Linked DNA regions of Homo sapiens: region 2 is linked to region 1. Evidence: fine-mapped expression QTL. A gene starts in region 1. The other region holds a variant in brackets. All regions are shown on one strand. Distances are between the middles of the regions. Region 1 holds the start of SCO1 (synthesis of cytochrome C oxidase 1). Region 2 overlaps TMEM220 (transmembrane protein 220).

The links. PIP is the estimated chance that this variant, and not a neighbour inherited with it, causes the effect.
Region 2: its variant is the best candidate, but not a certain one, in a credible set for the expression of SCO1 in pancreatic islets (PISA, PIP 0.60).

What each region holds. Positions count from the first base shown.
Region 1 is chr17:10,695,572-10,699,966 of GRCh38, reverse strand. SCO1 (synthesis of cytochrome C oxidase 1) reads left to right here and starts at 2,434. Exons shown (of 6, transcript NM_004589.4): 1 at 2,434-2,732; 2 at 4,136-4,226. The coding sequence starts at 2,460. ADPRM (ADP-ribose/CDP-alcohol diphosphatase, manganese dependent) reads right to left here and starts at 2,373. Exons shown (of 4, transcript NM_020233.5): 1 at 2,300-2,373. RefSeq lists a silencer at 2,006-2,335 and enhancers at 2,456-2,505, 2,221-2,515, 1,809-2,633, 2,634-3,457.
Region 2 is chr17:10,722,182-10,726,576 of GRCh38, reverse strand. It overlaps TMEM220 (transmembrane protein 220), which reads left to right. Exons shown (of 6, transcript NM_001004313.3): 3 at 313-373; 4 at 1,443-1,566; 5 at 3,248-3,307. Among named protein-coding and RNA genes, the nearest start is that of TMEM220-AS1, 5.4 kb to the left of the region's middle. The variant TG/G (reference allele first, on the strand shown) is at 1,997.

The DNA.
Region 1 (4,395 bases):
AGTTAGGGCCTAGCTGTCCCCAGTCAAACCAGCCTAAAGTTATGTCAAGAACAAAATCTGATCACTATTGATAGAACCAATATCAGATGATACTAATCCATGCCCTGCTTCTCTCAAGAAAAATATCTAAATTGGGGCCGGGTGTGGTGGCGCAAGCCTGTAATCCTAGCACTTTGGGAGGCCGAGGCGGGCAGATCACGATGTCAGGAAATCGAGACCGTCCTAGCTAACATGGTGAAACACTGTCTCTACTAAAAATATATATATTTTTTAAATTAGACAGGCCTGGTGGCACGCACCTCTAGTCCCAGCTACACGGGAGGATGAGGCAAGAGAATCGCTTGAACCCAGGAGGCGGAGGTTGCAGTGAGCTGAGATCGCACCACTGCACACTCCAGCTTGGGCGACAGAGGGAGACTTTGTCTCAAAAAAAAAAAAAAAAAAAAAAGAAAGAAAAGAAAAATATCTAACTTGGAAAACAAAACATAAACCTCATTTGGTGACTTTGGTGGTTTCACAGCAGTAATAAAAGTGATAAGGTCTATAAGGGATAACACTGTAGGCGCCTTCTGGCACTAAAGTTTCATGGGTCCTTGCCATCAGGCTCAGGTGTTACTAGCAATTCATCCAAAATGCAGTTATAAAACACCTACTTTGAGCCAGGAACTATATTTTATATTTATTTTATTTATTTTTTAGAGGCAGAGTCTTGCTTTGTTGCCCAGACTGGAAGGCAGTGGCCCGATCACAGCTCACTGCAGCTTCAAACTCCTAGGCTCCAGTGACCCACTCACCTCAGCCTCCCAAAGTGATGGGATTACAGGCGTGAGCCACCACATCTGGCCCCAAGAACTGTTTTCAATGATAGCATTTTATTTAATATTATAAAATTAATATGAAGAAGTTGCTACTAAAAGAAGCACTTTAGCAAATAAAATTTAATAGATCAGGTAGAAACACTGACTTCAATCTTAATTTGGGTGGCTGATCAGGTAACCTACAATTGGGCAATCAGAGATGAACAATAATTTTGTATGCTATCTGCCTGACTACACAAGGTACTTTTATGTCTTTTTGTCAATTACAAGAAAAAATTATCCCTGGGCAAACAAATACACAAAGATAAAAGAGCAAAAATCCTACCCACAGGCAACTATAAGATAGAAAAAAATAGTTTGATTAACGACTTGAAGTGCTGAACAAACATTTAAGAACTTTGGCAGAAATTTCTGAAAATTCTAGTCCAACCGCGAATCAAGAAACACAGGTAACACTATGTTCCGTTACTGGGTTAGAGAACAGAACAGTTGGCTAGTTTGGCTAACTCATAGAAAACAAGCAAACCAACCATGCTCTGGTCCAACAATCATCAGAGCACGAGTTTCTCCTACTCAGAGTCGGTCCCATGGGGGAAAAAAAAGCCACACAGGAGCGGGATCTGTAGTTAAGGAAGATAATTAGAGGACGATTTTCCTTTTTTTATTTCTCTGTATTTTGTAAAGCAACCACCGAGGTAGGGGCGGGGAGGGAGTGGTTAATATTGCGGATATTAAGATATAAATAAAGGCAGATGAAATGAAGTTAGACTTTCACAAAGAACGAAAAACCTACGAATGCTCTTGGCCTCATTAACAAGGAACATAAGCAGTTCCAGATGAGGAACCCATAACAAACTTCAAATAACGAAACTGTAGGGAGCAAGGGAGTCCGTGAGAGTATTTTAAGAAACTGGGACCCAGGAAGACTAAGTTAACGGATGGGATATCATGCTGTCTATATTTCTTTACACACTGCTATGCTTTATTAATTAGGTTACATTATAATGTTAAATAACTAGAAGCGCTGGGCATTTAAAGTTCTTCCAGACCGCCCTAACCACTCAAATTATCCTAATTAGCAATTTTTTTTAAGTTAAAGACTATTTCAATCGCAATGGGTCGGTTTCTATTTCAAAGATGTAAAGGAGTCAACATTCTGGCACTTCCTCTTGGCCGGCAGGACGAGGTTGACAAAGTCGGCCAGACAAGGTAGGGTTATGGGGGCTGCCCAGTCCCGTGGGTCTCTAGGCAGTGTGTTCTCTCTTCCGAGGTGGGGGTGTCCCCGGCGCGAGGAGCTAGCTGTGGTCACCGAAGCCCACGACCAAAGCGGGGGCCCCCAGCGCTTGGGGCCGCCTTGCCTCGGCCCAGCCGCGCACCTGGACCCCTAAGGCAGCCCCCTTCCCGGCGCTCCGCTGTCCCGCGGCCCCGCAGCACCGCCCAGCCCGCGCCAGACCCGCCTCCAGCCGCAGGGAACTACCTACCGTGCGCCGGCCCCTGGGCTGAAAGGCCTCTGACTACGGGCTATGTAACAGCGCCACCAACGAGCGGGACGGACAGAGCGACTCCTTCCGACTTCCGGAGGAAGCGGAACGCTACCGGAAATCGCGGGGAGGGTCAAAGGAGACCCGGTCTCCGAGGCTCATGGCGATGCTGGTCCTAGTACCCGGACGAGTTATGCGGCCTCTGGGTGGCCAACTTTGGCGCTTCTTGCCTCGCGGACTCGAGTTTTGGGGCCCAGCCGAGGGGACTGCGAGAGTCTTGCTGAGGCAGTTCTGCGCGCGGCAAGCGGAGGCGTGGCGTGCCTCGGGGCGCCCTGGCTATTGCCTGGGAACCCGGCCCCTCAGCACTGCGAGGCCGCCACCCCCGTGGTCGCAGAAGGGCCCCGGAGACTCCACGCGCCCCTCGAAGCCCGGGGTGAGTGCACACCTGGAACCCTTCTGGTGCTCGTCGCGGCTGTCGGCCAGCCCAGCGGCCACATCCCACTTGGTCGTAACCTCAGACACTACTCCGCCTCCCCTAAAGTTGTCCTTAGCTTGCGCGCCTTACCTGGGTCATGGAATTTCATCCTACATTTCCCGTGCCTTGCGGGTAGTCCCAGTTCTCCACAGAGAACTTGAGACTTTACACCCTCTCCACGTGGCTGGATGCCCCGACTTGGATTTTATGTTAGCGTTTCCATCAAAAAAAAAAAAAAAATTAAGTTTCAGGTTTTCTTAAGGGTATGAACCTAAAGTTTACCGTGATTGAGAAGTCAGAGGACTTTTATAATTTGTCACTTGAGCCCCATCCAGAGTTCCATGTATACGTTGAAATTGAAACAAAAAGTGGAACTTAGTTATGTGTGGATCTGCCTTTTTCTTGGGGTTCTCTCGAGTTCTAATTCTGACCCAGAAATAACTTGAGAGCCACTACCCTGTGGTAAGAGAAGTGGGTTTTTGGAGCTACGGGAAGGTTAATGAGTTAGGCCTAGTCTAGTTGGCCAACATCATCTTCATTTGGGGAGTTGAATAAGGGTACAAAGAAATAATGGGTGTAATTTGCAAGAAGCTCCACTTTTAGATTCCTCTTCTACTTTGGCATTGTTACTTCTGGAAGCCAGAGTTAAGTTAACCTCCCAAATTTCGTTTGGTCTATTTATCTCAGTATCAGCATAAGCAGATAATTGTTTTTTGTGTGTGTGTTTTTGGATTTTGGTTTTTGTTTTGAGACGGAGTTTTGCTCTTTTGCCCAGGCTGGAGTGCAGTGGCCCTATCTCGGCCCACTGCAACGTCCGCCTCCCGGGTTCAAGCGATTCTCCTGCCTCAGCCTCCCGTGTAGCTGGGTTTAGAGGGGTCCGCTACCACGCCCGGCTAATTTTTGTATTTTCAGTGGAGATGGGGTTTCACCATGTTGGCCATGCTGGTCTCAAACTCCCGACCTCAGGTGATCCACCCGCCTCCGCCTCCCAAAGTGCTGGGATTACAGGCGTGACCCACCGCGCCCGGCCATAATTGGTTTTAAAGTCATTACTGGAGCTAGGGTCACACATAGTAACAATCGTGGTACTTGAGCTTTTTTTTTTTTTTTTTTTTTTTTTTATTTACATGAAGAGAACTGACTTAGGGAACTTTCCCCTGGAGATGAATGCCTTTGTAGTTCAGATCCCAGACCTAACTGCATCCACAGAAACTTTGAGCATTTTCTCATCCCTGAAACATTTTGCACATTTAACATCATGGCCTGTGTGTATGTATATTAAAAACTACTTTAATAAGTTTGTATGGTTAAATGTTTGCATCTTACTAGAATTTTTATGTTTGAAATCCCTGCCCCAGTAGCCTGTTTCCTGGAAGTCTTTAGCAATCACATTTGCTATTGGAGGAGCTTTACTGGCTGGAATGAAGCACGTCAAGAAAGAAAAGGCAGAGAGTAAGTAGATTATCATCTGCTCAGCCCTGTATAAAGGTCTTCCTGGCTATGGACTAGCACCTTTTTTGTTGTTTTTTAGCTTTTTGTTTTGAAACAACTTTAGATTTACCAAAAAATTGCAAAGATAGCATAGGTTCTACATACCTTTCACCCAGCTTCCCCTAATATT
Region 2 (4,395 bases), 27 kb before region 1:
GTTGCTTGGGAGCGACTGGAAAGTTAGTGTGTCTTAAGACCAAAACCCTGTGCTCAGTGTTAGAGCTCAAAGATAAATGAGCTTCTGGAATAGCCTATAGTCTAGGAGGAAGGTAGATAAAATTGCAGGCAGACGTGCTAAGTGCCACAAAAGGAGAATCTACCACTTTCTCAATCACCATTGAAACTTAGAGGCAAATCATGGGGCACAGCAGCCACTGATCTCATCTTTCTTTACTTCCTGTATCTCTGAACATCTCATATATTGGGCATACATCTTAACTCATGTAATTTCCTCCCTTTTTGCTAACAGGTGGTGTACACAATCCCTGCAGTACTGACCCTGCTTGTTGGACTTAACCCTGAAGTCACAGGTATAAGCCTTGCATTCTAAATGGAGAGACAGCAAATCAGATTTCCTCATAATAATGAGGGTCTATCTGCCCAACTCCCAGGAGTAAAACGGGGCTCTCTAGGCCTTTCTTCTCATTTCTGATAATAAAAGGGGCTAATTCTAATCATCCTTACCCATCTTCAGGAAAACGTCAGAAGGATCTGCTATAAAACAGCGTCTTCTGTTTTATAGAAGTGAGAGGACAGATTCTTCTTCACTTTCTTTAAAACAGTTTCTCCTAGTGGGGCTCGAATGTTCTCAGGGGCCTTAGAATAAAGACTAATGAGTCCCACCTTAGTGGGGAAAATTCTAGTTCCCTAGATGCCTGGGCTCCTTGTATAGGCAGCTAGAACTCCGTCTGCATCTTTAAGGTAGATCAGTTAGGGCTCCTTTAGATACAAGCTAGAAAATAACTCAAATGTGCTATGAGCTGAGAAGAAAAGGTATTGGTACAGTTTACTGAAAAGGTGAAGGGTGGTGCTGGCTTCAGACTGGTGGACTCGGAACTTTACCTTCTCTCCACCTCTCAGTTCCACCATCTGTCATGCTAACTTCACTCTTGGGCTCCACACAGTGGCCCTGCAGCCCCCCATTCACATCTTCACGATGCCACGTCCAGTGGAATATGGACTGTGTTTCTTCACTCTACCAAAGTCTCAGAATGCAGTTGCTGGCTCTGATTGCTTGTCCGTTTGTGCTGATCCAAATCACTGTGGCTGAGGAGATAACATGTATTGATTGACCTAGCCAAAGTCCAGTTCACTGGGAAACATGGACTGTGAGTGTGGACATGGTGGATCCCCAGAGAAAATAAGGGTAATCATCCTAGGAAGGGGAGCTGCTGAACAACCCAAACAAGAAATGGCCACTGAAGTTTATAATTAGTGCTGTGACCTCTGTGTTGTCCTAAAACAAAAAGGGGCGATGGGGCTGAGGGAGTCTGAATGTCTTTTCTGAAAGCAGACTATGGCAAAACATACAAAAAGATCATTTTTTTTTTCTGTGGGCTGTGATTCCGTGGTTAACAACATCAGAACATCTATTTTTAGGTAATGTTATTTGGAAAAGTATCTCTGCAATACACATACTCTTTTGTACGGTGTGGGCTGTTGGCTTGGCGTCCTACCTCTTGCATCGTACACAACAGAACATCTTACATGAGGAAGAAGGCAGGTGAGCGGTGACGGTTACCCTGTGGAGGGATAGAACTGTGGGATAGAACTAAGGAATCGTGTTTGCAACACCTCATCTGTGCACAATGATAACTGAATTCCCCCAGTGTACCCTGTGGAGGAGGCAAGGTATTATCTTCTTTATAACCTGATGAAACTGAGGAAATAATGGAGCCAGGATTCAAACCCAGCCCCATCTATCAGGCTTCATTATCACTGCTAGTGGCAGTCACTACATATTACATTATATTACTGTCAGGCCGTTGGACTTTGGCCCCCTTGTAACTAGCAACGGTATGATACAGTAATACTCAGTCCGATCTAATATGGTGATAACTCTGTCAGCCTCAAATTCAGTTCTGGTTTAAGCCAGAATCTTATCTACAAGTATGAGCAGCCATCTCAGAGGTCAGTCCTTTTTTTTTTTTTTT[TG/G]AAACGGAGTCTTGCTCTGTCACCCAGGCTGGAGTGCAGTGGCGCGATCTCTGCTCACTACAACTTCCGTCTCCCAGGTTCAAGCTATTCTTCTGCCTCAGCCTCCTGAGTAGCTGGGATTACAGGTGCGTGCCACCACGGCCAGCTAATTTTTGTATTTTTAGTAGATACAGAGTTTTATCACGTTGGTCAGCCTGGTCTTGAACTCCTGACCTCGTGATCCGCCTTCCTTGGCCTCTCAAAGTGCTGGGATTACAGGCATGAGCCACCGCACCCAGCCAAAAGATCAGTACTTTAAGTCAACCTGTTAGACTTGCCCTGGTATGTCTTGTGTCATTTCCTTGTCATGACCACTTGCTCCTATTTTATCACCTCTTCCTTTGCTTCCTCCCACCCTTGTCTCTGAGGACTTATTAATAGGTCCTTTTGTTTCTTTTCTACTCCTACTGCCATCTGCCAACAACAAAATTCATAGACCTGTAAGTTAAACATCACTGAAAAGGTGTTTCTTTGTTATAACCCCCAATCTTTAGAACACTGGAGAGCCAAACTATAGGTTGGGTCTGTAGATAAGAATGTAGACCAAATGGGTTGAATCACTTCCAGCATGAAGCCCATGGGTTATAGTGAACTCAGCCTGGGGCTTCTAGTGGTATTATGGCTGAAGTGATTGTTTTTTATTCTATGTAAAAGATATGTGCATATAATACATATTTATAGAAGCATATACCCACCCCCAAATTATTAGTCTGATTTGTACTACAAATCATTCCTCTCCCCTAGGAAGTGACCCAATCTCTTGTAGTATATACACAGATCATGTATTGGTTTGGGCTCATTCTGCCTCACACTGAAGCCTCTTTAAAAATGTAAAAGTATTGACTGATCAAATCTGGGATTTTCTTAGTTGCACTGTTTCTTCTAGCGACCTGAAAAAAGTGATGTATCTGTGGATTTTATAAAATATTCATTTCATTTTGGGGGGATCCACTTATAAATCAGGGCATAGTCAGGGATCTCATACCTGCCTTTTAAGATGAAATGTATTTTCATATGAGGCTTTAAATTCTCTGAAAAAAGTAATTTATGAATCATGGTCAGATTTGAAAATATTCCATCGATGCCATAGATCTTGAGGGAGAGTCAGTCACTCAATCAGAATGCGCTATCAGGTGGTCATGGAGAGAATGTGATGATATGCATCTCACTTGTAGCCACTTCCAAAATCTGAAATGTACACCCTTTTATAGGGAGCTGTCTGGTCTGGTGATTATTACAGCATGGATTATCCTGTGCCACAGTTCCTCAAAGTAAGTATTCAACTCATCACATCTTCACTTTGGGAGGCCGAGGCGGGCAGATCACGAGGTCAGGAGATCAAGACCATCCTGGCCAATATGGTCAAACCCTGTCTCTACTAAAATACAGAAAATTAGCCCTGTGTGGTGGCACGCGCCTGTAGTCCCAGCTACTTGGGAGGCTGAGGCAGGGGAATCGCTTGAACCCGGGAGACAGAGGTTGCAGTGAGCCAAGACTGTGCCACTGCACTCCAGCCTGGGCGACAGAGCAACACTCTCTCAAAAAAAAAAAAAAAAGAAATCACATCTTCGAGGCTGACAAAATCAGGTAGTAAGTGAAAATACTGCCATACAAGTAAAAACAGGAATCTTTTGAAAGAAATCTTCCCTTTTCTTAAGGGAAGTTAATAATAGTTGATTTAAAGTATCCTGGTCACTCTTGTCCACAAAAACCGTAGTTTTCTACAAGGCCCAGTATAGTCATGGGCAGTTGTCAGCCTAAAGGGTGTTCTTCAGGGTGAAGGGAAATGATCTCAGGAGGAAACTTAGAGATTCACGAAAGAATGAAGAGCAAAGACAATATAAGTGCGTGTGTACATATCGATGAATGTTAACTAATTAAACATATACAGGATAGAAATACATGACAACAGTGGCATAAAAGCTGGAAAAGAGTAAATGGAGTTTAAGCATTCTAAGGTCCTTTAATTGTGTGAGAAGAGATAAAAGTATCCATTTATATTAAACTTTGATAAGTCAAGGATTAATGTTGTAATCATTAGGGTAACCACTGGTAGCATTAAAATGAGTACAGAAGGCAGGAGAAGGGGAAGGGGAAACAGAAACAATAGGACAAATAGGAAGCATGTGTTAAGATATAGATTTAAACCCAAATATATCAGAAATTACATTAAATGTAAAGGTAAAGATTTCAGTTAAGAGTCAAAGAATCTCAAAGTATGTAAAAAGATTAAAAACCCAACTCTAGGCCAGGCGAGGTGGCTCACACCTGTAATCTCAGCACTTTGGGAGGCCGAGGCAGGCGGATCAACTGAGGTCAGGAGTTCGAGACCAGCCTGGCCAACATGGCGAAACCCCGT